Linked DNA regions of Homo sapiens. The protein of the gene in region 4 interacts with the protein of the main gene of each other region in a pairwise test. Each region holds a gene or a part of one and is shown on either strand. Other genes may lie near its edges. The genes, in order: CLTRN, TFR2, AQP3 and OLFM4.

Region 1 (7,288 bases), on a different chromosome or scaffold from region 4:
AACCAATATAAATAAGATTTATGAATCAAAAAACAGAAAGAATTGCAAATTATGTCCAAGATCTTCTTCTTTGATTAAACAACAAAGATAATATAATCAAAATGAGAAAATTAATACACGTATTAGAAAATATAAAGAGAACATAACAACAAAAGTAGATATTTTATGGGAAATACTCTATAAAGTCCATGAGGATACTAGAAAATCTTAACAGAATATTTTCTTGGAAATTGTAAACAGCCAAAATGGATTCAGAAAGAGGTATAAAACCTGAAATAAATGATAATGTAAGGAATGAAAAATTTTGAAGAACTCTTCCTCTAAAATGCACATGGTCCAGATTCTTCATCTGTGAACTCTTTATTTCTGGTACATTATATGTATTTCTAAACATAGACAATGTTAGAAATCTTTCTGTATCATTTTCAAGATGGTAAAGGCTAGGAAAAAAAACGCTTCAAGAATCAGCACTTGAAAAGGAACCTACCTGATATTCTTTTAAGAAAATAGGTTTAAAAATCATAGGGGAAAAACCAGGAATTGATTCCAGCAGCATACTAAAAATAAATTAAAAAAATGTTTTATCTAAGAATTGAATCAATGTGAAAAATGTATTAATGTAATACACCAAATGGTAAAAATTTTAATAGTGAAAAGCAGTTGATAAAATGCAACACCAATTACTGAGGAAAATAATTTTTTGTAATTACAAATATAATGCTCGTATCACATGACACATCATTTTTAAAGCCACTTGCCAGATTCCGTGCAGTAGTGGCATTCCTATTAGAGTAAAGAAGAAGACAAGGGTGCGTCTTATTCCCATCATTGTATTACTCTGTTCTGATAGTGCCACTGCAGTGAGAAAAAACAACATCCTACAAGAACATATAAAGAGATCCAAGGCTAAGGAAGGCGCATTCTAACTATGAAAATATATTAGCATTGGTCATCCATTCTGGTAGTATTATGGATGTTTTCTACTTTTTTTTGCTTCTCTATATTGTCTATACAGAATTTCTATTGCTTTTTTCAATCATTTTAAAAATGAGAACACAAATATTGAGAAATCATAATGAAATAAGAGATTGTCTTCCCTTTTCAGATGAATGGCTTACACTGACTGAAACTCAATATTTTACTGTCTTCAATTCTAGTTACATAGATGACTAAAAGCTTATGAAGAAATTTGTCACTTTTAAGAAATGCAAGACTAAAGGAACCTGAAGAAGAATTCTGTGTTTCTACTCTGGGAGCTGAGGCAGGAGGGTTGCTTGAGCCCAGGAGGTTGAGGCTGCACTGAGCTAAGATGGTGCCACTGCACTCCAGCCTGGGCATCAGAGCAAGATCCTGTCTCTATTAAAAAAAAACAACAAACAACAACAAAACACAGTTAAGTTCAACAAAGATGACAAAGCTGCATAATAGCATGACCCCAGTTTTGTTTTTAAGAAGAAATGTACATGTATTTACACAAAAAAGAAAGCACAAGGCAGAAAGATATGTTCCAAATATTTAGAAAACATTGACAATTGGTCATTCGTTGACGCTGATGGAATTACAGGTGATTTTTACTTTTCTCCTTGTGCTGCTTTGTATTTTCTAAAAAGAATTTCTATTGCTCTTTTTGAAAAGATGATACAACAAACATTGAGAAACCATCATTCAAAAGAGATTGTCTTCTCAAATGAATGACTTACACTAAGACTCAGTGTTCTATTGTCTTCAACCCGAGTTACATCAATGACTAAGTAAAAGCCAAAGAAAGCCACTTGATACTTTTATGAAGTGTAAGGCTAAAGGAAAGCTGAAGCAGATTTCTTATTTATTTATTTATTTATTTATTTATTTATTTTTGAGATGGAGTCTCGCTCTGTTGCCCCGGCTGGAGTGCAGTGGCACGATCTCGGCTCACTGCAAGCTCCGCCTCCCGGGTTCAAGCAATTCTCCTGCCTCAGCCTCCCGAGTAGCTGGGACTACAGGCACCTGCCACCACGCCCGGCTAATTATTTGTACTTTTAGTAGAGATGGGGTTTCACCATCTTGGCCAGGCTGGTCTTGAACTCCTGACCTCATGATCCACCTGCCTCGGCCTCCGAAAGTGCTGGGATTACAGGTGTGAGGCACTGTGCCCAGCCGCTGAAGCAGATTTCTATGTTCTTAGCATAGCTTTCTTCCTTGATGTAAGTAAAATGCTTTGTTACAATCTCTATGTGTATTGACTTTTCCTTCCCATGATGACTTTATCTAGTTTAACATTTCCCAAGATGACTTCATCTAGTCTGGCTTTATTTTTTTCAGATGTTAGCTAGGTGAGCTCTTCCTTCTGGAAATTTCCACTGCACCTAATACAGTGACATTGCTAGGATGGCTGGACTAAGTTGTGGCTCCCTCTCCTTTTAGTACAGCTTTTCCTGACTCCGTGTCCTTGCAACCAAGGTGAAGGAGATGAGAAAAAGCTTTCTCAGTTGGATTTAGCTGATGGATGTGGGTCCTTTACAATAAAATACCACCCTCGCAAGGAGGGAGAAATGATGTGTTTCTCAAAGTGCTGCAGAAGTCTCATTGTTGATATTTTCCTCGTTGTTGCTTTGAAAATCCAATGTTTCTATTTAACACCAGAGTCACCCAATCTAATTCTGCCATTCATGACTTTTGAGGAATGGGGTGGAATTTGGGGACTGAATTTATGAAGAGGCAGCATGGTAGAGAGGAAAGTCCTGACATCAACCTCTGGGCGGGGCGTTGATTGGCATCTGTGGAATGCCCACCGGGGAAAGATTCTTTTACACGCATTATCTTAATTCTCAGAGCATCTCTGAGGCTTTGTTGCAACTTCAGGGTTTTTTAAAACTTTTATTTTAGGTTTAGGGGTGGATGTGCAGGTTTGTTATATAAGTAAATTGTATGTCACTGGAGTTTGGTGTACAGATTATTTTGTCACCCAGATAATAAGCATAGTATTCGATAGGTAGTTTTTCGATCCTCTCCCTCCTCCCACCCACTATCCTCAAGTAGGTACCTGTGTCTGTTGTTCCCTTCTTTGTGTCCATGTGTACTCAATGTTTAGCTCCCACTTATCAGTGAGACTGTGGTATTTGATCAATTCCAATTTTGACCAATGGTGACCAGAGACACAGAGCAGTTGGGTGTGGTGGAGACAGGGTTCAAGTGTAAGTCAACCTAGCTGGTAAAGTGACACCCATCCCACTCATCCCATTGCTGCCAATGACTTCAACGCTGGAGCCTCAGTTCCCTCCCGTATGAGATGATGATAACAATTGTGAAGTGTCTGAGGATCAGAGAAATAACCCAGTGAAGGTACTTCAGAGTGGGTAACTTTTAATTACTGTTGTATTGCTGTACTGACCAATGTAGTCAGTAGCCACATGTGCCTACTTAAATTAAATTAAACAAAAATTCCATTTCTCAGCTACACTAGCTCCATTTCCAGTGCTCAATGGCCTCCTACCTGTAGTAGCTGCCATATTGGATAGTACAGACACAGAACATTCCCATCGCCACAGAATGTCCCTTGGACAGTGCTGCTCTGTATCATTAACTTTGATTTAATTCAAGTGCCAGACCTCAGGGCTGAACACAATCATTCCCTATGTGTGAATGTGCAGGCACCTGTGCAGTTTTGTTGTATAGGTAAATTGTGTGTCACTGGAGTTTGGTGTACAGATTATTTTGTCACCCAGATAATAAGCATAGTATTCGATAGGTAGTTTTTCGATCCTCTCTCTCCTCCCACCCTCTAACCTTAAGTAGGTAAGAGGAAGCTCCGAAGCTCTCCTGGGATGTTCACCCGCTGTGGTGAGAGTCAGGTGAGGCCCTTCACGGAGGGCACCCTTTGTTTACCAGAGAGAAGGGAGTCACGTTTGTTTCCTGAATGAAGATAGCCTATCTAAGAACCAGGTATCTCAGCCTCGAAAAGGTGGGAAGTGCATGTCAAGGAAACCTCTAGACAGGACTCAATTCTTCCCATCATACACGTAACCAGAGAATCGCAGAAGGGGTCGGGGAGGATTCCAACTTTGAGTCAGCAAAGAAGACATTCTTTTGAGGTAGAGTCAGAGTAGGGAAAACAACTAATCTGTTTTCCAAACAGGTTTTCATAAATAACTGACAGGAGATGGGCTGTTTTTATGGAAGTATTAACCCAAATGATGGGTGTTAATCATTAAACCTTTTTGGTGGTGGCTCGCTTGTTTCTCTGATATTCTAATCCGGGTCACAGAATGGCTAAGGCAGATTTAAGTGCAGCGTGGATTTTTTTTTTCTCACTTTGCCTTGTGTTTTCCACCCTGAAAGAATGTTGTGGCTGCTCTTTTTTCTGGTGACTGCCATTCATGCTGAACTCTGTCAACCAGGTATGTAGCCTTGAAATTTAAAAATAGATGAACAGTTTTCTACATGTTTGACAAGTCATCGACTGAAAGAACTCTTTATTTTTCTAAATCTGCAGACATGTTGTGGCTTGAAAGTTGGGGCAGTGAGTGTTTAATGAGTTTGAAAGAAAATATTAAACCATCTAAGATGATTTAGGTTAAACTTCCAGGAGTATTTGGGGCTGTTTAATTGTAGTTCTTTGTTCCATTAGTTTGAGTTGCATTACATATTAGGATTTTTCAGACTCTGTTTTGGCAGATCCTAATCATCATATACTGCTCTTTCTTTTTTCTTTTCTGGCAGGTGCAGAAAATGCTTTTAAAGTGAGACTTAGTATCAGAACAGCTCTGGGAGATAAAGCAGTAAGTGGAGCACCTGAGTGTTCTTTTTAAATTTTGTTTGCTAATAACACTGTGCTTTCTCTAATAATGGGCCTGTCTGCATAGTTACCTTAATCTTGAATAAATTATTTCTAAAGACCTCAAATCTGATTTCTTAAAGATAGATTATAGAATAATATGAATTTTTAATAAAGTAGGTTTGCCTAAAGTATTTAATCAGTAGTGTATGCTAGGCAACATGTGAAGTTTTGTGCCACACAAAACAACTTAAAAAACCAGCATCTCAACTCGGGATAGTGAAGCCAAGTGGCCTGAGTCAGTCGTTCAGGTCTGGACTGGGTCTACTCCTCACCGTTGTGGTCATTTGAATTTTGTTAGCCTCGATTTTCTACCATTGAAAATAAGGGATAGTTCTACCCACATAAAGTCTTTCATAGCACAAAAAATTTCCAATTTGAACCTGAAGTTTCTTCAATTATTCTCAATTATCAAAGTAACATATGAAATATATGCTTATGAAATAGAAGTTTAAAAAATAGTCATAGGGCCCATGTGGCTATAGGAATGGTAAAGATCATTGAATTAAAAAGACAGTATTGTCTAATTCTAGTTTCAGTTTCCTAGTGTGGTCTGCAAAATTTTTTCCCCAATAGAAGGTGACGTTAAGATGCCTTAGGCATAGAAACAGAAAAAAGAGTGCTAAAGAAACTTAGAGGTATTCTGTTTGCAGGCCAGTTCATCAATTTGGTATTTTATTATTGACTCAATGAGTAATGATTGTTATAACAGCCAGCATTTATTGAGAACTTATCTTACTTTCTAGCTGGGGCTCTTCTAAGCACCTTACTCCTATCAAATCATTTAGCCCTCACAACAATGCTTTGAGGAAGATAGTAGTACAGGTATTAGTATTCCCACTGAATGGATGAGAAAACTGAGGTTCAAAGAAATTAAGTAACATGCTCAATATTTCAAGTCAGCAAGTGGCAGAAGTAAGATTTGAGCCCAGGCAGTCTGAGTGCAGAATACACTGTCTCTACTAGTGTGCAGGGTTGGCCATCCCAGTATCCTCTAATAGCAGGTACGATGCTGAATGCTGGGATGTAATGGTGATTAAGGCTTGTCCTTACCCTTGTGGAGCTTATAGTAGTAGTAGAATTGGTCATCTATTAAATATTCAGTAAACCAAATGCAAATGTGCAATCTTGACAAGTATTACGGGAAGAAGTACAAGGGCACTTCGGCTTTGTCAAGGCCCACAATACCTGGCACTTACTGTGATGTCTGAAGCATGAGTTGAAGTGTTACAGGAAATGAAAGAAGGAAAGGCAGAGGGAACAGCATGTGCAAAGGCTTATCACAGGAAGGATCTTGGTGAGAGTAAAGATTAGAAAGAGGGCAGAAATATCTGGAATTGGGGCAGTGAGGAGGAACATGGCAGGTGATGAGCTTAAAGAGAGAGGAGCAGGCAGGCCAAGGAATATGTGGGCTGTGTTAGGGAGTTTCATTTTGAGATGTAGGGAGGGTTCAAGAGCATCAAATGCCGTTGAGAGGCCAAGCCAGAAGGCGACTGAAAAATGTTCATTGTGTTGGACAATATGGAGGTCAATGGTGATTTTAGAAAGAGCTCTTTTCGTGGGGTGGAGGAGCTGGAAGACAGATAGTGGGGAGTTAAAAAATAAATGAGTGGTGAACATGTTGAAACAGATGTGTGGACAACTCCTGGGAGAATTTTGGCTGTGAAGGGCAGGAAAGAGATAGCAGTAGGTAGAAGAAAGGAAGACTGAGTAAAATGATTTGTTTTTGCTGTTGCAAAACAACAGCTCTTTGCTATGGCTTTAATGAGAAAGTCTTGAGCTTGGTTAAAAGACAATGAACAGACTCCGGTCAGAGCTAAATACACAGAATGGAGGGGAACTGATATTGTTTAGATCTGAGAAGGGCAGAGGAGAAGCATTCCTAATATAAGTGACGGAAATGGCCTCTGATAGGCATAGTTCTGTCTGGCACTTCAGGAGAGGAGGCGGCTAAGACGTGTCTATGGAGGAAGTGTTGTATCTTGATGTCAGGAGGTTGGGAGAGTTGAAATTGATGAGATGTATCTATAAATTATGAAGCAAAACCATTTAGTGAGAGTGAGGTTTGAGGGAAACCATTGGGAAAAATGGTTAAAAAAAAAAAGCATTGACCATCAGTTCTCTCTCTAGAGAGAGGTTTGAAATAGTTATGTGACCCATGAGAAAGAGAACTGATGGTGAAACCTTAGGGATTCCCAGGCAATTTGGGGGTAGGTCATCATGAATTTAGAGTTAAACCAACTAACCCTGTTCTGTAATTGTCTCTAGTTATACCAGTTACTTACCTAAAATGTGGGGTTAGCCATGGTTTGAGTGTTCTTAGATGTGTGCAAAAAGCAAGGTGAGCTGGGGCATTTAAGGTCCTGGCACATGTTATTGAAATGAGGAACCAAGGAATCTAAACTGATAGATAAATATATGCAATTAATTTGTACCATTTGGTCTGTGAAGCCACACGTGGCATATAAAGATGTG
Region 2 (7,021 bases), on a different chromosome or scaffold from region 4:
GCTCACTGCAACCTCCACCTCCCGGGTTCAAGTGATTCTTCTGCCTCAGACTCCAGAGTATCTAGGATTACAGGTGCCCCCCCACCACGCCCGGCTAATTTTTGTATTTTTAGTAGAGGGTTTCACCATGTTGGCCAGACTGGTCTCGAACTCCTGACCTAGTGATCCGCCCATCTCGGCCTCCCAAAATGCTGGGATTACAGGTGTGAGCCACCATGCCTGGCCGGGACCCTGACTCTTTAAAAAAAAAAAAAAAAAAAAAAAAAGTGACTCTTCTGGATGGACACAGCCTTTCTCCAGGGTCTACTGTCTGGCAACTAAAGTTCCCACTGGATTGCACACCTACCTCAGCTGAGAACCATCCAAGGCAGCCCTGACTGCACTGCCCTACCCAGGCAGCGTCCAGAGGCAGCGATCTGGAGCCAGAAAGGGTGGGAGGGAAAGAAATAAGGAAAAGAGTGATTTGGACTCTTCTGGGTCTCTCTACAACTTCCCCCTTTCTGCCTTCCTCCTCTCCAGGAAGCTCAAAGGCCCTGTGGCCCCCCAAGAATGGCAGGGGAGCCTCCTAGGCTCCCCTTATCACCTGGGCCCCGGGCCACGACTGCGGCTAGTGGTCAACAATCACAGGACCTCCACCCCCATCAACAACATCTTCGGCTGCATCGAAGGCCGCTCAGAGCCAGGTATGCTGTGTGTCCAGTATCACTCACAGCTGGTGGTGGGCTGGGGGAATTTCTGCCCATACACCCTGGCAAGATAGGGGGCTGGTGCAGGAGGCCCCAAGAGGGGACAGGAGTGGTGCCCAGAGGAGGGAAGCTGGCAAGTTGAGGCTGAACTGGGTCTGATGGTGGCAGCAGTGAACAGACCTCACCTTCCAGCCTGTCTAGTGATGGAATGGGGGTTGTTGCCCAGTAGTGAGCTCCCCAGCACTGGAAGTGAGTAAGCCTAAGTTGGATGATGTTGTAATAGAAACTCAAGCATGGGCCGGGTGTGGTGGCTCACGCCTGTAATCCCAGCACTTTGGGAGGCCCAGGCAGGTGGATCACTTGAGGTCAGGAGTTTGAGACCAGCTTGGCTAACATGGTGAAACCCCGTCTCTACTAAAAATACAAACATTAGCTGGGCCCGGTGGCATGCATCTGTAATTCCAGCTATTCCGGAGGCTCGGACAGGAGAATCACTTGAACCCAGGAGGTGGAGGCTGCTGTGAGCCGAGATTGTGCCATTGCACTCCAGCCTGGGCAACAGAGCAAGACTTTGTCTCAAGAAAAAGAAAAAAAAGAGAAAGAAAGAAAGAGAGAAAGAGAAAGAAAAAAAGAAAGAAAGAGAGAGAGAGAAAGGAAGGAAGGAAGGAAGGAAGGAAGGAAGACTCAAGCATGAAAGAAAGATCAGATCAGATTAGATAGAAGCATAGATGGCCCTTTCAAGCATAGCTAGATGTGGATGGCAGTGGAGAATTAAAATAAGTAATTGACAGATGGGGCAACAAAGCCAAGACTTCACAAAAAATTTAAAAATAAGAGAAATTGGCTGGGTGCGGTGGCTCACGCCTGTAATCCCAGCACTTTGGAAGGCCGAGGTGGGCGGATCATGAGGTCAGGAGATCGAGACCATCCTGGCTAACATGGTGAAACCCTGTCTACTAAAAATACAAAAAAATTAGCTGGGCATGGTGGCAGGCGCCTGTACTCCCAGCTACTCAGGAGGCTGAGGCAGGAGAATGGCGTGAACCCGGGAGGTGGAGCTTGCCGTGAGCCAAGATCGTGCCACTGCACTCCAGCCTGGGCAACAGAGCGAGACTCCAAAAAATAAATTAAATAAATAAATAAGTAAGTAAGTAAAAGAAATTAGCCGAGCATGGTGGCACACATCTGTGGTCCCAGCTACTTGGGAGGCTCAGGCAGGAGGATGGCTTGAGCCAGGGAGTTTGAAGCTGCAGTGAGCTATGATCACACCACTGCACACTCCAGCCTGGGTGACAGAAACCTTGTAAGTCCAGAATGACCTCAGGCACCCAGCTGAAGGAGCACACCATCCAGGAAGGGCCAAGTGGGGAGGGGCGCCCTCTTTAGGGACTGGAGGGACTGCAGGGCTAGGGTTGCCGGAATTGTGATGGGCTGAGAGACACAGGCAGATGGAGGATGCCCCCAGGGTGCAGGGTGCAGTGTCAGAAGTGGGTCCCAAACATCCCCTCCCCAGATCACTACGTTGTCATCGGGGCCCAGAGGGATGCATGGGGCCCAGGAGCAGCTAAATCCGCTGTGGGGACGGCTATACTCCTGGAGCTGGTGCGGACCTTTTCCTCCATGGTGAGCAACGGTAAGGTCAGGGCCAGGGCCTGGGCCTGGGCTAGGCAGCGGTGGGCCTGTGGCCCGAGGAGGATAGGGCAGAGAGGCAGTGAGGGACACAGACTGGCCAGTGGTCACTTGGACCTCGGCATCCACATTGTACCTGAGTGGCCCTGGGCCAGTCACTTCACCTCTATTTCGTCACCTAAAAATGAAAGTGAGGCCGGGTGCGGTAGCTCACGCCTGTAGTCCCAGCACTTTGGGAGGCCGAGGCAGATGGATCACCTGAGGTCAGGAGTTTGAGACCAGCCTAGCCAACATGGTGAAACCCTCTACTAAAAATACAAAAATTAGCCAGGCGTGGTGGAGGGCGCCTGTAATCCCAGCTACTAGGGAGGCTGAGGCAGGAGAATCGCTTGAACCTGGGAGGCGGAGTTTGCAGTAAGCCGAGATCGCACCACTGCACTCCAGCCTGGGCAACAGAATGAGCCTCCTTCTAAAAAAAAGAAAGAAAAGAAAAGAAAAAAAGTGACATGAATGATAATCATAGTCCATGGGTCTGTGTCAAGATTAAGCATGTTGGGCTGGACGTGATGGCTCATGCCTGTAATCCCAGCACTTTGGGAGGCCAACACAGGAGAATCGCTGGAGACCAGGAATTCAAAACCAGCCTGGGCAACATAGGGAGACTGCATCTCTACAAAAGTTTTTTAAAAATTGGCTGGACTTAGTGGTGCATGCCTGTAATCCCAGCTACTTGGGAGGCTGAGGCAAGAGGATGACTTGAACCTGAGAGGTCAAGGCTACATTGAGCCATGATTGCACCACTGCACTCCAGCCTGGGCGAGAGAGTGAGATCCTGTCTCAGAGAGAGAGACAGAGAAACAGAGACCCTGGGGGACCAGGACAGAAGAAGACAAGGGGAGGGTCTTTGCTTGGCCCCTGCTAAGCCTGTCCTCCTTCCCCTCTGTCCCCAGGCTTCCGGCCCCGCAGAAGTCTCCTCTTCATCAGCTGGGACGGTGGTGACTTTGGAAGCGTGGGCTCCACGGAGTGGCTAGAGGTGATACGGGGTCCCGGGCAGGTCGTTAGGCATTGGGGAGAGGTGGGGGTGGGGGGTTCCCACTCCACACTGGTCACCCACCCACAGGGCTACCTCAGCGTGCTGCACCTCAAAGCCGTAGTGTACGTGAGCCTGGACAACGCAGTGCTGGGTGAGCTGGGGCAGTGCCACCACCTGGCCCCCTGGGGTCCACCCTTGCCTCTGGGGCTGAGCCCTGAGCCTGGCATCCCTCCCCTCCCCTTTTTCCAGGGGATGACAAGTTTCATGCCAAGACCAGCCCCCTTCTGACAAGTCTCATTGAGAGTGTCCTGAAGCAGGCAAGAGCACCCCAGGAATAGGGGGTGAAGGGGAGTAGGTTGCGGGGAGGAGCAGAGCCTGATCAGTGCCCTTCCCCAACCCCCAGGTGGATTCTCCCAACCACAGTGGGCAGACTCTCTATGAACAGGTGGTGTTCACCAATCCCAGCTGGGATGCTGAGGTGTAAGTTGGGGGGGTAGGGAGAGCTGGGGAGGGATGTGGGGGAGCCTGAACCCACAGATCGCTCCAACCCACCTGCCCCCAGGATCCGGCCCCTACCCATGGACAGCAGTGCCTATTCCTTCACGGCCTTTGTGGGAGTCCCTGCCGTCGAGTTCTCCTTTATGGAGGTGAGACGTCCTCCCCCTGCCCCAGACACAGCGCTAGTCCTTCAGCCTGTCTGCCTCCGCCCCAGCGTCCACCCTGTCCTGGCAGGACGACCAGGCCTACCCATTCCTGCACACAAAGGAGGACACTTATGAGAACCTGCATAAGGTGCTGCAAGGCCGCCTGCCCGCCGTGGCCCAGGCCGTGGCCCAGCTCGCAGGGCAGCTCCTCATCCGGCTCAGCCACGATCGCCTGCTGCCCCTCGACTTCGGCCGCTACGGGGACGTCGTCCTCAGGCACATCGGGAACCTCAACGAGTTCTCTGGGGACCTCAAGGTTCAAGAGGCCCACCCCGCTCTTGGTCTCTGGGAGTGGGAGGCACTGCCCAGGCCAGGGGGTCCAGCCCCTTCTCTCTGCATTCCCTGGGGTCTAGGTCCTCTCTGGCAATCCAGCCCATTAACCCCCTGCCTCCAGTCTCCCAGCCCCCAGCATGTGCCATCGCCCAACCTGGCAGGTGCAGGATCTTCTCCCCACTCCCTTCATCCTGCCTCCAGCACTCTGTCCTCGTCTACCTCCTCCCTCCTGCGGCCAGGGGTCCCAGCCCCCTTCCCCATGCTAGGCGGGGGTCCTTGTCCCCATGCTAGGCGGGGGTCCTGGCCCCTGCCGCCAGCCCCAGCCCGCGCCTCCCCACCCCAGGCCCGCGGGCTGACCCTGCAGTGGGTGTACTCGGCGCGGGGGGACTACATCCGGGCGGCGGAAAAGCTGCGGCAGGAGATCTACAGCTCGGAGGAGAGAGACGAGCGACTGACACGCATGTACAACGTGCGCATAATGCGGGTGAGGCCCCGCCCTCCTCGCCCCGCCCCCAGTGTCCCGCCCCTCCCCTGGGGCTCCACCTCCTGGACCTGGCCCCGTCTGCGCGCTCCTCTCTCTCCCCGCCTACACAGTCCCGGTCCTCTGGATGCTCTCTTCCCAGTCCTGGACACGCAGTGCTCATAGATCGGTCAGGCTGGAGGACCCGAGCGATCAAAGTGATGAAATGGACAGGGAGGGCCAGCCTCTTGGCCACAGTCGCCTGGTTTACGCCTGGCAGAACTGGGACAATCCACCCTCCCCCACCCCTCCCCGCTGACTCCCCTCCTATAGCTCCCACTGCCTCCTCGACCCTTCTGGAAAGAAAAAGCATGTCCACACTGGTCCACAATACGAGGTTACAGGCTGGGAAGTGCAGAAGGCTAAAGATATTCAGAGTAAGAGAGCTGTTTTCCTTCTGATAATGAAATGGGTGAAATCCAGAAAGGCTGCCTGGAGGAGGTGTCACGTGAAAGTTAAACAAGAGCTTATTCCCTCACCAATCCCTTCTGCTTAGCTTTGAATCCTTTGCAGCCCACACCCCACCTCCAGTTCCAACTCCTCCACTTCCTTCCATTTTCTTACTCCAAGAACTCAACCCCTCAACCCTTTGATGTCAAGAAATGGGTGAGTAGGGACTGTGGCCATGGGGAAAGGTCTGCAGGGCAAAATAGTAAACAGGATCATCCTCAATGAGTGTGGGGTGAGCTGGGAACTGCAGTGTACACAGAGCCACTTGTGCACACACACTCACGGTTTTCAGAGCCAGCATGGCTACCCCTTGGAGGCTCATGTTATCTCTCCTCCTTGCATTTTCCTGCTTGTGCCCTCTGCCTGTCCCCCTTGGCCATTTACAAACCTATTGCTCTTGCTCGTTCTCCCTTGCCCAGACTAGAGTGCAGTGGCACCATCTCTGCTCACTGCAACCTCCAACTCCTGGGCTCAAGTGATCCTCCCACCTCAGCCTCCCTAGTAGCTGGGAGTACAGGCACGTGCCATGACGCCCGGCTAAATTTTTCTATTTTTTGTAGAGACAGGGTTTTACCATGTTGCCCAGGCTGGTCTCAAACTCCTGGCCTCAAGTGATCCTCCTGCCTCGGCCTCCCAAATTGCTGGGGTTACAGGCGTGAGCTACTGAACCTGGCCTTCTCCTCTCCTTCTTATATCTCTTTCTCCATTCATTCTTCTTTAACCTTTGCCTCCTCTACTGGAACAGGGGTGACCCTGGGGTGAGGCAATAGGTTGGGTATGGTTCATTCTCATTCACAGATCTTGGTTTAACCTCAGCTGTGTCAGCATGCAGAAGACAAAAACACCCACCTTTCAAAGTTGCCATACCCCTGTCCCCACCAGGGATAAAAGGGACCTGCGTGTAAGATGCATGACTTAGGCCAGGCACGGTGGCTTACGCCTGTAATCTCAGCACTTTGGGAGGCTGAGGTGGGCGGATCACCTGGGGTCAGGAGTTCGAGACCAGCCTGACCAACATGGAGAAACCCCGTCTCTACTAAAAATACAAAATTAGCTGGGCATGGTGGCACACGCCTGTAATCCCAGCTACTCAGGAGGCTGAGGCAGGAGAATCACTTGAGCCTGGGAGATGGAGGTTGCAGTGAGCCGAGAGCACGCCATTGCACTCCAGCCTGGGCAACAAGAGCGAAAATCCATCTCAAAAAAAAAAAAAAAAAGAAAAAGAAAAAGAAAAAGATGCATGACTCAGGCTCAGGGATGGAGAGGGAAGGACTCAGGACTTCAGAGCCTGCAATACAGGATTGGGCCAGACCCAGTGAATTTTATGGCTCTAGACCAGGGGTTGGTGAACTACTGCCCATTGGCCAAATTCAAACTGCCGCTTGTTTTTTTGTTTTTTTTTTTTCTGAGACGGTCTCACTCTGTTGCCCAGGCTGGAGTGCAGTAGCATGATCTGGGCTCACGGCAACCTCCACCTCCCGGGCTCAAGCAATCCTCTCACCTCACCTCAGCCTCCTGAGTAGCTGGGACTACAAGGACACACTACCACACTCCGCTAATTTTTAAAATTTTTTGTAGAGATGGGATCTCACTATATTGTCCAGGCTTGTCTCAAAATCCTGGGCTCAAGCGACTCTCCCACCTCAGCTTCCCAAGGTGCTGGGATTACAGGCGTGAGCCTCTGCTCCCTGTTTTTGTAAATAAAGTTTTATTGAAACAGCCATGC
Region 3 (7,980 bases), on a different chromosome or scaffold from region 4:
TGGGCGACAGAGCGGGACTCCATCTCAAAAAAAAAAAAAAAAGAGTTGAAAAGAAAAGCTCATGTGGTGGTGGTAGTGGTGGCAATGGGCGGCATAAATAAATAGGGAGGAGACCAGAAGTGAGGTTGAATCCACTTCTCCTGAGTCCAGGATGCCAGAGCCCCAGCCTTCACCATGTCCCCCTCAACAACCTCCCCTTCCTTTACCTGTCCCTGTCCCAGCGTCTCCTCTCTCCACCCATGACCTCTCTGCTCTCAGGGGTCCAGATTCCCCACTCAGATTTGGAGGTCCTACAGACAGGGATCTGTGTGGCTCCTCTCACTATCCCCAGCCCGGGACCCAGGGCTGTAGAAATGGGGAGATCGGTTCTAAACTTTCTGCCAAAAATGGGGGAACTAAAAGAGACTAAGAGCCCTGGTGTTCTACAAATATAGAACATACTGGAGCCAGCTGTGGTGGCTCACACCTGTAATCCCAGCACTTTGGAGGCTGAGATGGGAGGATCTTGAACCCAGGAGTTTGAGAACAGCCTGGGCAACATAGTGAGACTTTGTCTCTATTTAAAAAAGAAAAAGAACGTACTATGTCTGTTCCCCTTGTTCAAGCCTGAAAATACTTCTGCAGCAGCTGTAAAGCATTGTTGCCCTGAGCCCCCTGAGTGTCCCTCAAAGCTGCTCCAATGCCTTGCCCTGGTCTCCTCTCCCACCTGCCCATAACTAAAGGTTTTATGCCCACAGAGCAGGCAGTTTCCAGGACCTGTGCTACAGACCTTGTTTATTCTGACGGGTCAGTGCCTGTTGTACTGGATAGTTAAGCATTTTGATTATCATCCCAGAAAGACCAAGAGATAACGGAGAAGCCAGCGGCAATGACATGGGGCAAAGGTGTGCAGGCAGGTGAGAGCAAAGATCAGAGATTGCAGGTGTATGTGTGAGGAGGGGTGGTGGGAGACAGGCACGTGAGGGTCTGAGGCGCCCTGCCCTGCTTGGGAGGCCCTGGCAGCAGCTCCTTGCCTGCCAAAGGCTCAGACCTGGCTCCATCCCAGGACGCCTTGGAGGGAGGAGCTGTCAGAGCCAGTTCCACCACCTTGGGGCTAATCTTCCTCTTCCTCCCCCAACCCCTGCCCTGAGTTCTCGGCCAGCACCGCCCCCTGCCCTCACACCAGGTATCTCAGAGAAAGGGGCTTTCCTCACCCCAAAGCCAACCCTGATTCTGCCACTGCAGGCCTAGGCTCCCAACACGCAGGTAGGCAGGCAGGCACTCACCCACTACAAAGGGATCCCCAGGCCTGCCCCTCCAGTTCATGCAGTCCTTGAAGTTCTGCTTCTCACTGATATCCAATACCTCACATCCATCTGAGTCTGCAACCCTTCCCCTAAAATTTAACACTCTTCTTTTGTGGTCTGGGATAAGCCTGATGATCCTGGGGCTCAGTGGGAGGACTAACGGCTCCTTTGTGAGAGAGTGAACTGAGACTTGGGAGGGAATGAGGAGGCCCCTCTAGGAAAATAGAAGACATCATCCTCCCCTAGCCTGGCTGCTCTAAAACAGGTGGCTGGACTCAGGACTCCGATAGGAGTGAGGGCTCCGAGGCAGGAGAGTGATAAAGGCCACCTCCTATTGCCTTCTTGGCACAGGAGAGAGGGGCTAGGGCTGGCTGATAGGACGACTAATCTTATGGGAGGCTGTGGATAAAATGCCCCCTGTGGCTTCCCCACTTCCTATTCTTGGAAGCCAGAAGTGGGTTTCAGCCCTCCTCTGCCCATAGATCCTGATCCTCAACCATTTGGGGATCCCTACTTGCCCTTAGTTAGGCTTCCTAGTCCACAGTGGGCCAGCTGGTCTGTACTACCCAGGGCTGGGGCAGGAACGGAGTAACCCACTCACTGCAATGTAGCAACTGAACACAGAGGAAAACAGGTGTAACCACATGAGCGGCTGAAAAATCAGAGTAACTGGGACAGGAAATAGAACATAACTGGTGGGTCTGCCAGACCTAAGAAGTGCAAACAGAGTCACTCAGAACAAAACCAGGGTGAAACTGGTGTGACCAAGGAGTAACTAGGACTGAGGAGTAACTCAGGCAGGGAAATGCTCACTCAGAGAACCCACAGAGTAACCAAGAGGCCAGGGAGTAACCAGAATGCTTGTCGTCTTCTGCACAGACGCTGACAGCATCTGTCTGGATAACAGACAGGGCCTGGGAGTCGCTGAGCACCAGGTGAGCAACTTTAGACACGCGTCCTCTGTGCCTGGGCCTAGCTTCCTCCCACCCTTCTACCGTCAGAATCTGCCTCCCTTCCCACTTCGCTGTTCGCAGCCCATGTGGCCTGCACCCTCTGCCCCCACTCGTGCAAACTGTCCTCACTCACTTCAACCTTTGGACTTTTTGAGGCTTAATTATTCATTAGAGGCCAGACACCCAGGACCCAAATAACCTAATAATGGCTCATTTGCCTCCGCCCCCTCCCCTACATCTGGGGGCTGGGATTCTGGGAATCTGGAGGGGTGTGGGAGGCAGGGGAAGTGGCTGGCTGTCCCAGACTGCAAGCGTGACCGCTGCCCCCAGCCTGTTGGCTGAGTCACTTGTGGGAGGGTAAACGATCGGCACTATCACTGGGGAGTAACAGCTGTCATTCTGGCAAGAGTCGGAGCTGTCAGAGAGGGGGTTAGAACCGTGGGGAAGAGGACTTTGGAAGTCAGCTTGATCCTCCGCGGTTAAGCGTGGGGGTCACAGCTGGGGAGGTGGGTCCAGGCTACCTTGGAAAACACAGCCCCTTCGGGGAAGTGAGAGTTTGGGGAGTGCAAGGGCTGGAGAGAGAAGGGCTTCCCCGGCTCCCTCCACTCACCACCAGGATGAGGGTCCCCAGGCACTCGGCCAGCGCCTGTCGGAGCAGCCGGTAGCGGATGTGGAGCATCTCCCCGCAGCGGGACACCAGCTCCTTCTGTCGACCCATGGCGGGGCAGGCGGCGGCGCTGTCGGGCGGGCAGGGGTGGCGGGAGGCGGTGGCGCAGCGAGCAGCGGCCTCCAGCGCTGGTGGCTCCCTTTATAGGAGCGCTGGAGACACGGGCCCCGCCCGCCCTGCAGCCCCGCCCTGCAGTCCCGGAGCGCCGAGGAGTGCGCGCCCCCTCGCCCCCGCCCCACCTCGGCTGGGAGGCTGGTGCGGACGCCGGGTGGAGGGAGCTGCGGGCATGGAGTGTGAGGAGCTTTGAGGGACGGGTGGCCTTCGGAGGGCGCTTAAGGGAGGGGACGTCAAGGGGGCTGAGAGGCTTAGGCAGATCTGAGAGCCAATGGTGGGATTATAGGCAGGGTTCAGGGCCATGGCTGGAGAGGATGCAGCTGTCATAGAGACCACCTGCGCCCTGTGATCACCCCACTTCCTTGCGGGCAGGAGGAGACCTGTCAGAAAGAAACTGGCCGCATCTCTCCAGGATGACTGGACCCAACAGATCCTCAGTTCGAGGCAGGAGGAGGAGGCTGCGAGCCCCAAGTGAGAAGCAACACTGTCTCTTCTGTCAGGACAGATAAGGCACCGACCCTTCAAGGGGACAGCTAGTGTCAGAGGGGCAGCAGTCCAGACTCAGGTGGGCACACAGACACACGTGCTGAGTTCCAACCAGACTTCATGGGCCCTTCTCCCTGTGCTATGAGCACGTCGTGTGTCGCATGTCCTGGCCAGCTATGTCCACAGCTGTGTCTACACATGGCGGATGTCCTGTGTGCCTAATTGTACGGCTGGGCATTCCTCGTGGCTGTGCACATGCCTGTTGAACATGGCTAGGTGACCTAGCTTGTCACACGTGTACCTGCGTGCATTGCTCACATGGCTCCAGAGGCTGAGCTGCAGTTGCCCCGACATGCCACATGCCACATGTTTGCCAGCAGGCTGAGTCCCAGCTGTTTTTAACCCTCTCCTCTCCCATCTGACTTACCCCCAGCCAAGGAAGAGTCTGTCTCTTTTTTTTTTTTAGACGGAGTCTCTCTCTGTCGCCTAGGTGGAGTGCAATGGCGTGATCTCGGCTCCCTGCAACCTCCACCTCCCAGGTTCAAGTGATTCTCCTGCTTCAGCCTCCCGATTAGCTGGGATTACAGGTGCACACCACCATGCCCAGCTAATTTTTGTTTTTTTAGTGGAGATGGGGATTCACCATGTTGACCAGGCTGATTTCGAACTCCTGACCACAAGTTATCCACCCGCCTCAGCCTCCCAAAGTGCTGGGATTACAGGCGTGAGCCACTGAGCCCAGCAAGTCTGCCTCTTTAAGCAAACTTAATTATGGGGGAGTCAGCCCTATCTGAGGGGGATCATGGGACAACCTTGCCCTCTCTCTCTTTTTAAAGAGTAGGGTCTTGCTCCATCACCCAGGCTGTGGTGCAATCACAGCTCACTGTAGCCTCGAACTCCTGGGCCCAAGTGATCCTCCCACCTCAGCCTCCAGAATGGATGGGACTATAGGGACTATGTGCCACCATGACACTCAGCTAATTTTTAAAAATCTGTTGTAAAAATGAGGTCTTGCTATGTTGCCCAGGTTAGTCTCAAACTCCTGGCTTTAAACGATCCTCCCACCTCGGCCTCCCGAAGTGCAACCTTGCCCTCTATGCTGCTTTTAATAACAAGGAAACATCTGGTGGCCTGGGAGCAAACAACATGCCCTTAGGCTGAGCTTCTATGGCAGCATTGCCAGAGGAGATCAAAGAAATCATTTTCCAGAGGGACTTAATCCAGGTGGGCTAATGACCCTGAGGACTTGTCCCTTGAGGGACGAATATGAGAAATAAGGGCCCCCGGCTGGGCGTGGTGGCTCACGCCTATAATCCCAGCACTTTGGGAGGCCGAGGCGGGCAGATCACCTGAGGTCAGGAGTTCAAGACCACACTGACCAACATGGTGAAACCCTGTCTCTACTAAAAATACCAAAAATTAGCCGGGCGTGATGGCGGGTGCCTGTAATCTCAGCTGTTCGGGAGGCTGAGGCAGGAGAATCACTTGAACCCAGGAGGCGGAAGTTGCAGTGACCTGAGATCATGCCATTGCACTCCAGCCTGGGCAACAAGAGCCAAACTCCATCTCAAAAAAAAAAAAAAAAAAAAGGGCTCCCACGGTTCATTGAGAAGCGAGCAGGGCTAGTGCAGAGGTTCTTCTCCCAGAGGGACCAAAAGAGAGAAGGGTTAGTCCTGTCGTCCTTGATCAGAAATGTGATCAGCACCAAGAAAGCCCCAGGGGCCACTGGGACCTACAGTCAAACTATGTTAGGTGACAGGACCATTGACATTTCAGGACAGATAGGCATGGACCCTTCAAGTGGACAGGTTGTGTCAGGAGAGGTAGCAGAAGAAGCTAAACAAGCTCTTAAAAACATGGATGATGACTCACTCCAGCCTCTAGCTCATGGGATCAAACAATCCTCCCACCTCAGCCTCTCAAATAGCTGGGACTACAGGCATGCATCACGATGCCCGGCTAATTTTTGTATTGTTTGTAGAGAAGGGGTTTCGCCATGTTGGCCAGGCTGGTCTGGAACTCCCGAGCTCAAGCAATTTGCCCACCTTGGCCTCCTAGAGTGCTTGGATTGTAGGATTATGAGTATTGCTAAACCCATCTCTTTGGGCATCAACCACCTCTGCCACATGCCTGTAATCCCAGCTACTCGGGAGGCTGAGACAGGAGGATCACTTGAACCCAGGAGGCAGAGGTTGCAGTGAGCCAAGATCACCCCACCTGGGTTCAAGCGATTCTCCTGCTTCAGCTTCCCGAGTAGCTGGGATTACAGGCATGCACCACCATGTCCAGCCAATTTTTTTGTTTTTTGTTTTTTGTTTTTTTTAGTAGAGACGGGGTTTCACCACGTTGGCCAGGCTGGTCTCGAACTCCTGACCTCAGGTGATCCACCCGTCTCGGCCTCCCAAAGTGCTGGGATTACAGGCATGATTCACCGTACCTGGCCTAGATAGGCATGTTAAAAAAGAAAAGAAAAGAAAGGAAATAAGGGCTCCCAGTCCCAGAGGTGGTTCATGCCCAAAGAGATGGGTTTAGCATACACATGAAGTAGATTCACATACATGCAGGTGCTTGCGCATACACACACACAAACACACAGACACACACACACACCCTGTGGTTTGCAGTCACACACTTGCCTATAGACACTGAGCTCTGCTCCCATGATCAGGGATCCCATTCACATGAGAGCCTCGCCATGGGCTCACACATATATAGAACCCCCACATGAGGACTCTAATGACCCTTGACCCAGAAAGATGCACCCTACCCTCCAGGCCTCTATAGGCTGGGAGGCCCCGTGGTGAATCAGGGAGCCATCACTGAGTACCTGCCCTCTGGCCCCACTGCCAGCCTGTGACTCAAGACAGAACCATAGACTCCTGGTGCCAGGGCCCAGATCACAGGCTATGGGAGTGGTAGAGCACCCCTGCCATGCTGCCCCCTTTTCCTCCCACCCTATAATATGCATCCAGCCCATCCCTGCCTCAAGTGGAGCTGCAAAGGCAGCACAGGGCAGAAACTGGCAAGGGACTCCTCAACACCGAAAGAAAATAGGGAAACCCAGCCCACAACACCCCATTGTCACCCTGTCCCATCCTGGGTCTGCTGGCATCCAAATCTAGCCTGGGAACCAGAGCAGGGGAGAAAAACAGGGGAAGCTCTTTCACCAGCAGACACTACACACACTTCTATTTTTTATTTCTTTTCCTCTTCCCTTATAAAAGCAACCTGGAGGCCGGGCATGGTGGCTCGCGCCTACAATCTCAGCTCTTTGGGAGGCTGAGGTGGGCGGATCACAAGGTCAGCAGATCGAGACCATCCTGGCCAATAAGGTGAAACCCCATCTCTACTAAAAATAAAATAAAAAAAAATTAGCTGGGTGTGGTGGTGGGCGCCTGTAGTCCCAGCTACTCGGGAGGCTGAGGCAGGAGAATGGCATGAACCTGGGAGGCAGAGCTTGCAGTGAGCCAAGATGGCGCCACTGCACTCTTGCCTGGGCAACAGAGCGAGACTCCATCACAAAAAAAAAAAAAAAAAAAAAAAAAAGGAACCTGGCCTGGAGCCGGGCACAGTGGCTCATGCCTGTAATCCCAGAATTTTGGGAGGCCAAGCCAGGCAGATCATTTTAGCTCAGGAGTTCAAGACCAGCCTGGCCAACATGGTAAAACCCTGTCTCCACTAAAAACACAAAAATTAGGCCGGGTACGATGGCTTGCTCCTATAATCCCAGCACTTTGGGAGGCCAAGGCAGATGGATCACCTGAGGTCAGGAGTTCGAGACCAGCCTGGCCAACATGGATAAATCCCATCTCTACTAAAAATACAAAAATTAGCCAGGTGTGGTGGTGTGCGCCTGTAGTCCCAGCTACTTGGGAGGCTGAGGCAGGAGAATCGCTTGAACTCGGGAGGCAGAGCTTGCAGTGAGTCGAGATCGTGCCATTGCACTCCAGCCTGGGCAACAAGAGCGAAATTCTATCCCCTCGCCAAAAAAAAATTAGCCGGGCATGGTGGTAGGCACCTGTAATCCCAGCTACTCGGGAGGCTGAGGCCAGAGAATCGCTTGAGCCCAGGAGGCTGAGGTTGCAGTGAGCAGAGATCGCACCACTGCACTCCAGCCTGGGCGACAGAGACAGACTCCGTCTCAAAAAGCAAATAAACAAAAAAGCAACCTGCACACACATCTGTCTGCATTCACCTCACATGGGTTTTCTCGTGGGCTGCACCAGGAAGTAGCTAGTTACACACACAATTATGGATTTGTCTGTCTTATATACGTTGAGCAGCATTTATTTATACATATGCAGCTACCTGTACTCACCCATGTATGCATGCATGTATGTGTCTATCTATAATCCTGGACTGCAGCTCACCATAGAGTATCTTTGCAACCCCCTCCAGTCAATGCAGCTGCATGCCAAGGCACATGGTTTAGCTAGCAGAACAAGGGCTGGGTCTCAATGTCCTTGTTCCCCAC
Region 4 (7,021 bases):
GCTACAGATTCATATATGTGAAAAGTTCATATGAATGATTTACTTAAATTAGTAAAGTTCACACTCTGAAGTCTTTCTGGCCCATCCCCAAGCTCTTTTGTGTCTTCTCTAACTCCATGGATGATTGCCATTTTCCTGAACACCACTGAGCATCCTTTAAGTGTCAGCTGAAGAACCTTGAGTTTTTTCCTCAAATGGATCTTTACAGACCCTTCATTTTGTCTGCACCAGGGCAGGCACACCACACATTTTTATAGGTAACAAACTCCAGAATATGCCTTGCTTTTTTTTGTGAAAATCTAGGAGAACCACATTTTATTTAGCAGAGATGACAGTTGAATCACTCATTTTTGTAGAACAACAGCTGCGATGTGCCACCAAAATGTTCCAGAGAAGCTGAGGGTGTTTCATTTGTTCCAAGAGCTGGCAAGGCCAAATGCCAACAAGCATATTTATTTCTCAAACTTCCATTTCTGTAATGGATTGGCACTTTATTTATTTTTATCATAGTCAAGGTTTTATGCCTGAGTTTTGTAGACACTGGAACCTGGCAGCCCTATATCTGCAGTGCACTTCTCAGGGGGACTTGTTAGGTTTTATATATAGTGAGCCCTCCATAGCCTTGGTTCCGCATCTGCAGATATAACCAAACTCAGATTGAAAAATTTCACGGAAAAAAACTAATAAAAATAACCATGTAACAACAGGAACTATACAAATAAAAAACAATACAACAATGATTTATATAGCATTTACATTGTTTTAGGTATTATAAGTAATCTAGACTTGATTTAAAGTATTTGGGAGGATGTGTGTAGATTGTAGGCAAATACTGTACCATTTTCTGTCAGAGTCTTAAGCATCCTTGAATTTTGTTATTCTTGGGAGGTTCTGAAACCAATCCACCATGGATACTAAGAGGTGGCCGTATATATGTTTTAACCTCCCTATCCACCAAAATATCACCAGCTTTGTCATCCTCCGAGTTATGGTACATCCAATGGCAGTGAGCATCAGTTGCCCGAGGAGATACACTAGCAGTGCCAAGGACTGTTTTTTCGACTTTCATTAAAATCCTTTTTGCCTGAAGCCCTAGCCCTTCAGGTCTGTGGTCTATGAGTCTACTTTAATTTGCACAATGGGGTTAAGTGGAAGGGCTGAAATGACAGAAGTTAGGATTGCTTTTGGTATAAGAAGGATTAAAGGCCAACATCTGGCTCTAAATTCATCCAGGCACTGTGGATCAGCTACTTGATATTAGTGTAGTTTTGGGAAAAGTATCACTTCAGTTCAAATTTTTAAAAAGCATATAAAGCCAGCAACTTATTTAATGAGCAGGTCCTTAAAAAAGCCATGGCATTTTCTTTAGAGATCAGACACAGAAAGAACCACCAACTGTGTTTATTAAAATATCCACTTGGATATTCCAATTATACACTAAACTGCCAAGGGAATTTTTGGAAGTATTTTAACTTAATGATCAGACATTCAAATATATGCAACAAATCTGTAATTTAAAGGTCTGATTGCAATAATCAGTTCTTGGAATAAATGTGGGTGCACTTAATGAAATGTGTACTCTACAGGGCACACACACTCACATATTGTGTAGTAGGTTGGATCTCTATGCCACTTTGTAAAAGGCAGAGGGGATCAAAACTAATTGTATATGGCGATCAAAGAAGGAATTCGGCATAGCGCATTTCTCCCTTCTCCAGAAAATACTTAGATGTAGAGCCATGTTTCTAAATGGAAGGAGGGTGGTGTTGGCCGTGGCAACGATTTTGTCCCCAGGGAACATTTAGCAATGCCCAGAGACATTTTTGGTTATCATAACTGGAGAGTGGTTGGATGCAACTGGCATGAAGAAGCCAGGGATGCTGCTTAATATTGTGTAATTCACAGCACAACCCCCACAAGAAATGACAATCCAGTCCCAAATGCTAACAGTGCTGAGGTTGAGAAACAATTAGAGTAAGTGTGTTGAAGGGAGGAGAGATGGCAAGAGACTATGATACAAACCAGTTTAGTTTGGGGAGTTAATGTCTTCAAACATTAAAATGGAGATTAAGAAAAAAGGGCTCAATATCACTTGATCATTAGAGAAATGCAAATCAAAGCCATAGTAAGATACCATCTCATACCAGTCCAGAATGGCTATCATTAAAAAGTAAAAAAATAACAGATGCTGGTGAGATGGCAGAGGAAAGGGAACATTTATACACTGTTGGTGGGAGTGTAAATTAGTTCAGCCATTGTGGAAAGCAGTGTGGTGACTCGAAGAACTAAAAAGAACTATTATTCAACCTAGCAATCCCTTTACTGGGTATATGCCCAAAGGAATATAAATTGTTCTACCATAAAGATACATGGGCGTGTGTGTACATTGCAGTACTATTCACAATAGCAAAGACATGAAATCAACCTAAATGCTCATCAATGGTACACTGGATAAAGAAAATATGGGCCATATACACCATGGAATACTTTGCAACCATAAGAAAGAATGAGATCATGTTCTTTGTAGGAACATGGATAGAGAGCTGGAAGCCATTCTCCGAAGCAAATTAACACAAGAACAGAAAACCAAATACCACATGTTCTCACATATAAATGAGAGCTAAATGATGAGAACACATGGACACAAAGAGGAGAACAACAGAAGCGTACTTGAGGGTGGAGGGTGAAAGGAGGGAGAGGAACAACAACAAAAAAATCTATTGGGTGCTAGGTTTAGTACCTGCGAGACAAAATAACCTTTACAACAAACCCCCATGACATGAGTTTACCTATATAACAAACCTGGGTATATACCCCTGAGCCTAAAACCTTTTTAAAAAATGGAGATTAAAATATACCTGCAAATGATGATGCTGAAGCAAAATTATGTTTAGCCTAGCAAAGTATAAAATCTACCTCCCTTCAATTGGAGTAATAAGTTCTTTGTATATGGATAGATTTTAAAAATCTAGTTAAATGTATTTTTGATCTATTTATTTACAAAACACAATGATTGGCAAGAATCAAATAGTTCTCAACTCAAGGGCTCGGTAGTGGAAGAAGATGGTGTGATACTACTCAGGGAATTGGCTTGAACCTTTTGATTTTCTTTCAGGTGAGGGAATATGTCCAATTAATTAGTGTGTATGAAAAGAAACTGTTAAACCTAACTGTCCGAATTGACATCATGGAGAAGGATACCATTTCTTACACTGAACTGGACTTCGAGCTGATCAAGGTAGAAGTGAAGGAGATGGAAAAACTGGTCATACAGCTGAAGGAGAGTTTTGGTGGAAGCTCAGAAATTGTTGACCAGCTGGAGGTGGAGGTAAGGAGTGAACTCACTTCTTGGTAAATTAATAATAAACTCCCTTCAGTGACTGTAAGCAAGTACTAGTACCAGGAAGTGAAACTATCTCTTCCAACTTCTAATTCTCTACTGTCTCATGGCCACATGGCATATCACTATGTTCTGTTTTGGATAAGGGCATGTGTTTGAATAGTAAGTTAAGCACATTGGGAATGTGCTGACTTAGGAGCAGATGTTGTCTAATGGTCAGAATCCTGCCCCAGAATAAAATGCCCTTTCAACTTCTCTGAAAAGGAGCTGGCATAAAGTTGAACAACGGTTCATGGCCAAGCTATATGAGGTGTCTTCTCTGCTCTAGATTTATCCTCATGGAACTAGAAATCCACAATATACCTGATTGTGGTAAAATTGCTAGGTTTGTTTCTCCTTTTGAATAACCTGGAATCCTTCTCTGCAAACTGGAAACCCCCTTTAAGAAATTTCTTGTATATTTCTGTAAAGCCTTTTAAGATCTGTGGATAAAGACCATCACATTAACGTTATGGTTGGGTAATTTATATCAACAAAAATTTACTAGCACAGTCATGACATGGGCTATAATTGAGAATTCTAGTTACGTATTTTAGAATTTAAGCTTTCTCTGGCCCTCACCATTCATTAGAATCTTAATTATAATACAACATGAGTAAACACAAGTTTATAGGGGAAGGTTATTAGAAATGAACTTTAATGGACATTTGTGGATGCTGAGGATGAGCTTGGGCTCTATTATTAAAGCTATTAAAATCTTTGCCATTTTCTTCTTGTCACACACATCTGCCTGAGATCTGACAGGCATTCATGCTAAACCATAAAATGTATTCTTCCAAATGAAACCATTCAGAAGAATCTCTGGTGTATTCTCTGGCAATGTTTCACTAAATGACAAATTCAGCCCTGGAATGTTTATGAAAGAAATTGCACCATAATATAAAGTCACTCTGAATTTTTATTTCCTTAGATAAGAAATATGACTCTCTTGGTAGAGAAGCTTGAGACACTAGACAAAAACAATGTCCTTGCCATTCGCCGAGAAATCGTGGCTCTGAAGACCAAGCTGAAAGAGTGTGAGGCCTCTAAAGATCAAAACACCCCTGTCGTCCACCCTCCTCCCACTCCAGGTAAGCATGCCAGTTTTTTTAACCACTTGTGCCAGACCCCATAAGGAGCTGTGAGTGGGGTGGGGAAGGGATTGGGGATTGCAATGGTGAAAGAAGAAGGTGGGTTGTTTTTTTTTTTTTTTTTTCAGTTCTCAGTTTTCTCTTCCATGTTTTAAAATTCCCTTCCTCCCAAGTATTCTACATGCTATCATATTCTGGGTTTCAAAGAGGAAGAGCACAAACAATGAGTTGATTTAAAGCAAAATCCACGAGTTACACGTATTCTCTTTGCATTTTCTAACAGGGAACAAAAATCTCTATGGTGATGGAGGCCCTATCAGGGGCCTCAGGGGAAAGCCTCTGGAATCTGTGTGTGGCATCCACTTTCCTGTGGAGTTAAGGACTGATTGGCTCACTTATCTGATGAGCTGGGTTTATGCCTTTGATGCTGCCATCTTCTCTCTCTCCTTCTGTTTCTCTTTAATTTTTTCTTTTTTCTTCCTATAAATGCATGCTGAGCACCTGCTATATTGTGTGTCCTGAGATTCAGTGAGGATTAAAGGAATGACCCCACATATCATGTGCTTGTGGGTGTGTCTTGCCATTCCTCATGGATTGTGAGTTCTTGGAGTAGGGGTGGCATGTTCGTCTTTAATGAATTCTCATTGGGGTTAAGTACAGCACAGAGGTGGGTGTTCTGCAAATATACCCATGAACAGAGGCAGTGGAGTGTAGGGTACAAGAACATAGCTTTAGAATTCCAAAGACCTGAGCTTCTCAGCTAGGTGGCTGCAGCAAAAAGGATCCTTAATATCCTCATTTGTAAAATGGGAGAATAATAGTGCCTGCCTTGCAGGGTGGCTGTGGGGATTAATGAGTCAGTGCTTGGGAAGCTCGGAACCTTATGATCGGCACTCACACGCTGGCAATGGATATTGTTAATAATGTTGATAATTGAAGCGAAAGCCTTGCAGCAAAACAAAAGCAGTGCCAGATTACTGTGCCCTGCAATGCATTCCTTCAGGTAAACTAAAGCCTCTCAGCCACAGTGTTCAGCCCCATCCTTTAGAGATATCAATGACACAGGGACCTTCTCTCTGCAGGTCCTGAGCATCTTAGCCTGAGTGGGGACTGTATCTTTTCATCAAATCATGCAATCCTTTTATTTTTATGAATTCCAATCCTCACACCTGCTTTCTTTTAGACTGTGTTTCTGGATTATTGTCATTGTAACTGATTTTTTAAGGCTTCAATTATTAAATAGGTATAGCCATAGATATAAGCCTCTTGGTCTTCTTCAGGTGGATTTTTTTCCTCCCTCTGCAAATAGGAGTGTGTCCTACTATGACAGGTGTCATCTAATGGTTAGAATCCTGCCCCAGAATGAAATGGCCTTTCAACTTCTCCAGAAAGGAGGTGACATAAATTTGAACAACTGTTCAAATTTCGCATCCTGCATAGGAGGTTTAGGGCAGACAACATGGTCTGTCCTCTGTAATAAACTAAGGCTAAATTTAGTCTGGGATTAGTGGTGCAAAAATGTAGCAAATGAGAGCTGTTTCTGGTGGACCACAGAGGACTCACTGAGGCAGAGGCTGAAGCAATGACAACTCCTGATAATCCCTGAACGAGCTCCCCAACACCCCTTGCAAATCCTCCTCATGGAATAGATTTTTCTGGCACAATTTTCTATGCATCCCTTAGAATGAGGACATTTTAGATGAAGGAATATTCAGGGCCATCTAACTTAGCCTCGTCTTGTCTCAGAGGAGAAGACGTGGATGGTAAGAACGCTGCTTTTCCTGAGGCCACACAAGTAGTTAATGACAGAGCAGAAGCTGCAAGGCAAGGGTCTTTGCTCCCTGGTCAGTTCAGGACCGAAGGTGTCAGGCAGCAGTAATCCAAGGACAACGGTGGGGAGAAAATGCATTGCTTAGTATCCAGGGAAGAAAACAAGTGAGCCTGTTGGGTTGTTTTTGTTGGATTTTTTTTTTCCCAGAACTTTCCCCTAGGCCCTCACACTTAGACTTCTGTGATCCATCCTAGCCCAGCTGTGTTGTTTAAGCAAATTGGACCCAGATTTTTACTCACTTTCCCACAACCTTGGCTGTACCTGAATCCCTGCCAAGCCACTTGGCTCTCTTCCAGCTTTGTTCATATTATATTTATGATGTTTATATTAAACTGACTTTTGGTCATGTTTTTAAATCAATTTCTTTCACTTGCTCTCTTTCTGTTTGGATTGGTTGATAATGCAGAATTGGAAAATCCCCAAGCACCACAAACTTGTGAGCCTGTGGAGACTTTAATTAAAGTTATTCTCTATTATGGGACTTTAAAATCTGGCCTGTCTGCTTTTTTCACTGCAGAGTTGCACAGAATAAAAAAGACTATATGCAAGTCTCAGCTCTAAAGTAACTCTGCGCTCTCTGGGCCCCCTCCCTTATAGCTACAGTTTGCTGACCCAGTGGTCAGCTTGAACTTAGAACAAGTGAATGTATCCCAGGTTCAATAAAATATGCTTCCTATTTGGTTTTTGCTACAAACAACGTCCTTTTTCTGCCTCATTTCA

What was found.
Region 1: the proteins of OLFM4 (region 4) and CLTRN interact in binary tests that used the Homo sapiens proteins (3 or more experiments, as listed by UniProt).
Region 2: the proteins of OLFM4 (region 4) and TFR2 interact in binary tests that used the Homo sapiens proteins (3 or more experiments, as listed by UniProt).
Region 3: the proteins of OLFM4 (region 4) and AQP3 interact in binary tests that used the Homo sapiens proteins (3 or more experiments, as listed by UniProt).

Annotation. Positions count from the first base shown.
Region 1 is NC_000023.11:15,661,806-15,669,093, reverse strand, and holds the start of CLTRN (collectrin precursor), read left to right. Parts: upstream 1-4,288; 5' UTR 4,289-4,318; coding exon 4,319-4,376; intron 4,377-4,698; coding exon 4,699-4,757; intron 4,758-7,288. UniProt on the Homo sapiens protein: Plays an important role in amino acid transport by acting as binding partner of amino acid transporters SLC6A18 and SLC6A19, regulating their trafficking on the cell surface and their amino acid transporter activity.
Region 2 is NC_000007.14:100,624,551-100,631,571, reverse strand, and holds part of TFR2 (transferrin receptor protein 2), read left to right. Parts: intron 1-346; exon of another isoform or gene 347-416; intron 417-519; coding exon 520-683; intron 684-2,199; coding exon 2,200-2,319; intron 2,320-3,265; coding exon 3,266-3,348; intron 3,349-3,435; coding exon 3,436-3,499; intron 3,500-3,597; coding exon 3,598-3,665; intron 3,666-3,751; coding exon 3,752-3,828; intron 3,829-3,910; coding exon 3,911-3,995; intron 3,996-4,080; coding exon 4,081-4,308; intron 4,309-4,668; coding exon 4,669-4,809; intron 4,810-4,821; exon of another isoform or gene 4,822-5,222; intron 5,223-5,341; exon of another isoform or gene 5,342-7,018; intron 7,019-7,021. UniProt on the Homo sapiens protein: Mediates cellular uptake of transferrin-bound iron in a non-iron dependent manner. May be involved in iron metabolism, hepatocyte function and erythrocyte differentiation.
Region 3 is NC_000009.12:33,444,574-33,452,553, forward strand, and holds the start of AQP3 (aquaporin-3), read right to left. Parts: upstream 3,021-7,980; 5' UTR 2,958-3,020; coding exon 2,850-2,957; intron 1-2,849. UniProt on the Homo sapiens protein: Aquaglyceroporins form homotetrameric transmembrane channels, with each monomer independently mediating glycerol and water transport across the plasma membrane along their osmotic gradient. Could also be permeable to urea.
Region 4 is NC_000013.11:53,038,795-53,045,815, forward strand, and holds part of OLFM4 (olfactomedin-4 precursor), read left to right. Parts: intron 1-3,115; coding exon 3,116-3,328; intron 3,329-4,310; coding exon 4,311-4,470; intron 4,471-7,021. UniProt on the Homo sapiens protein: May promote proliferation of pancreatic cancer cells by favoring the transition from the S to G2/M phase. In myeloid leukemic cell lines, inhibits cell growth and induces cell differentiation and apoptosis.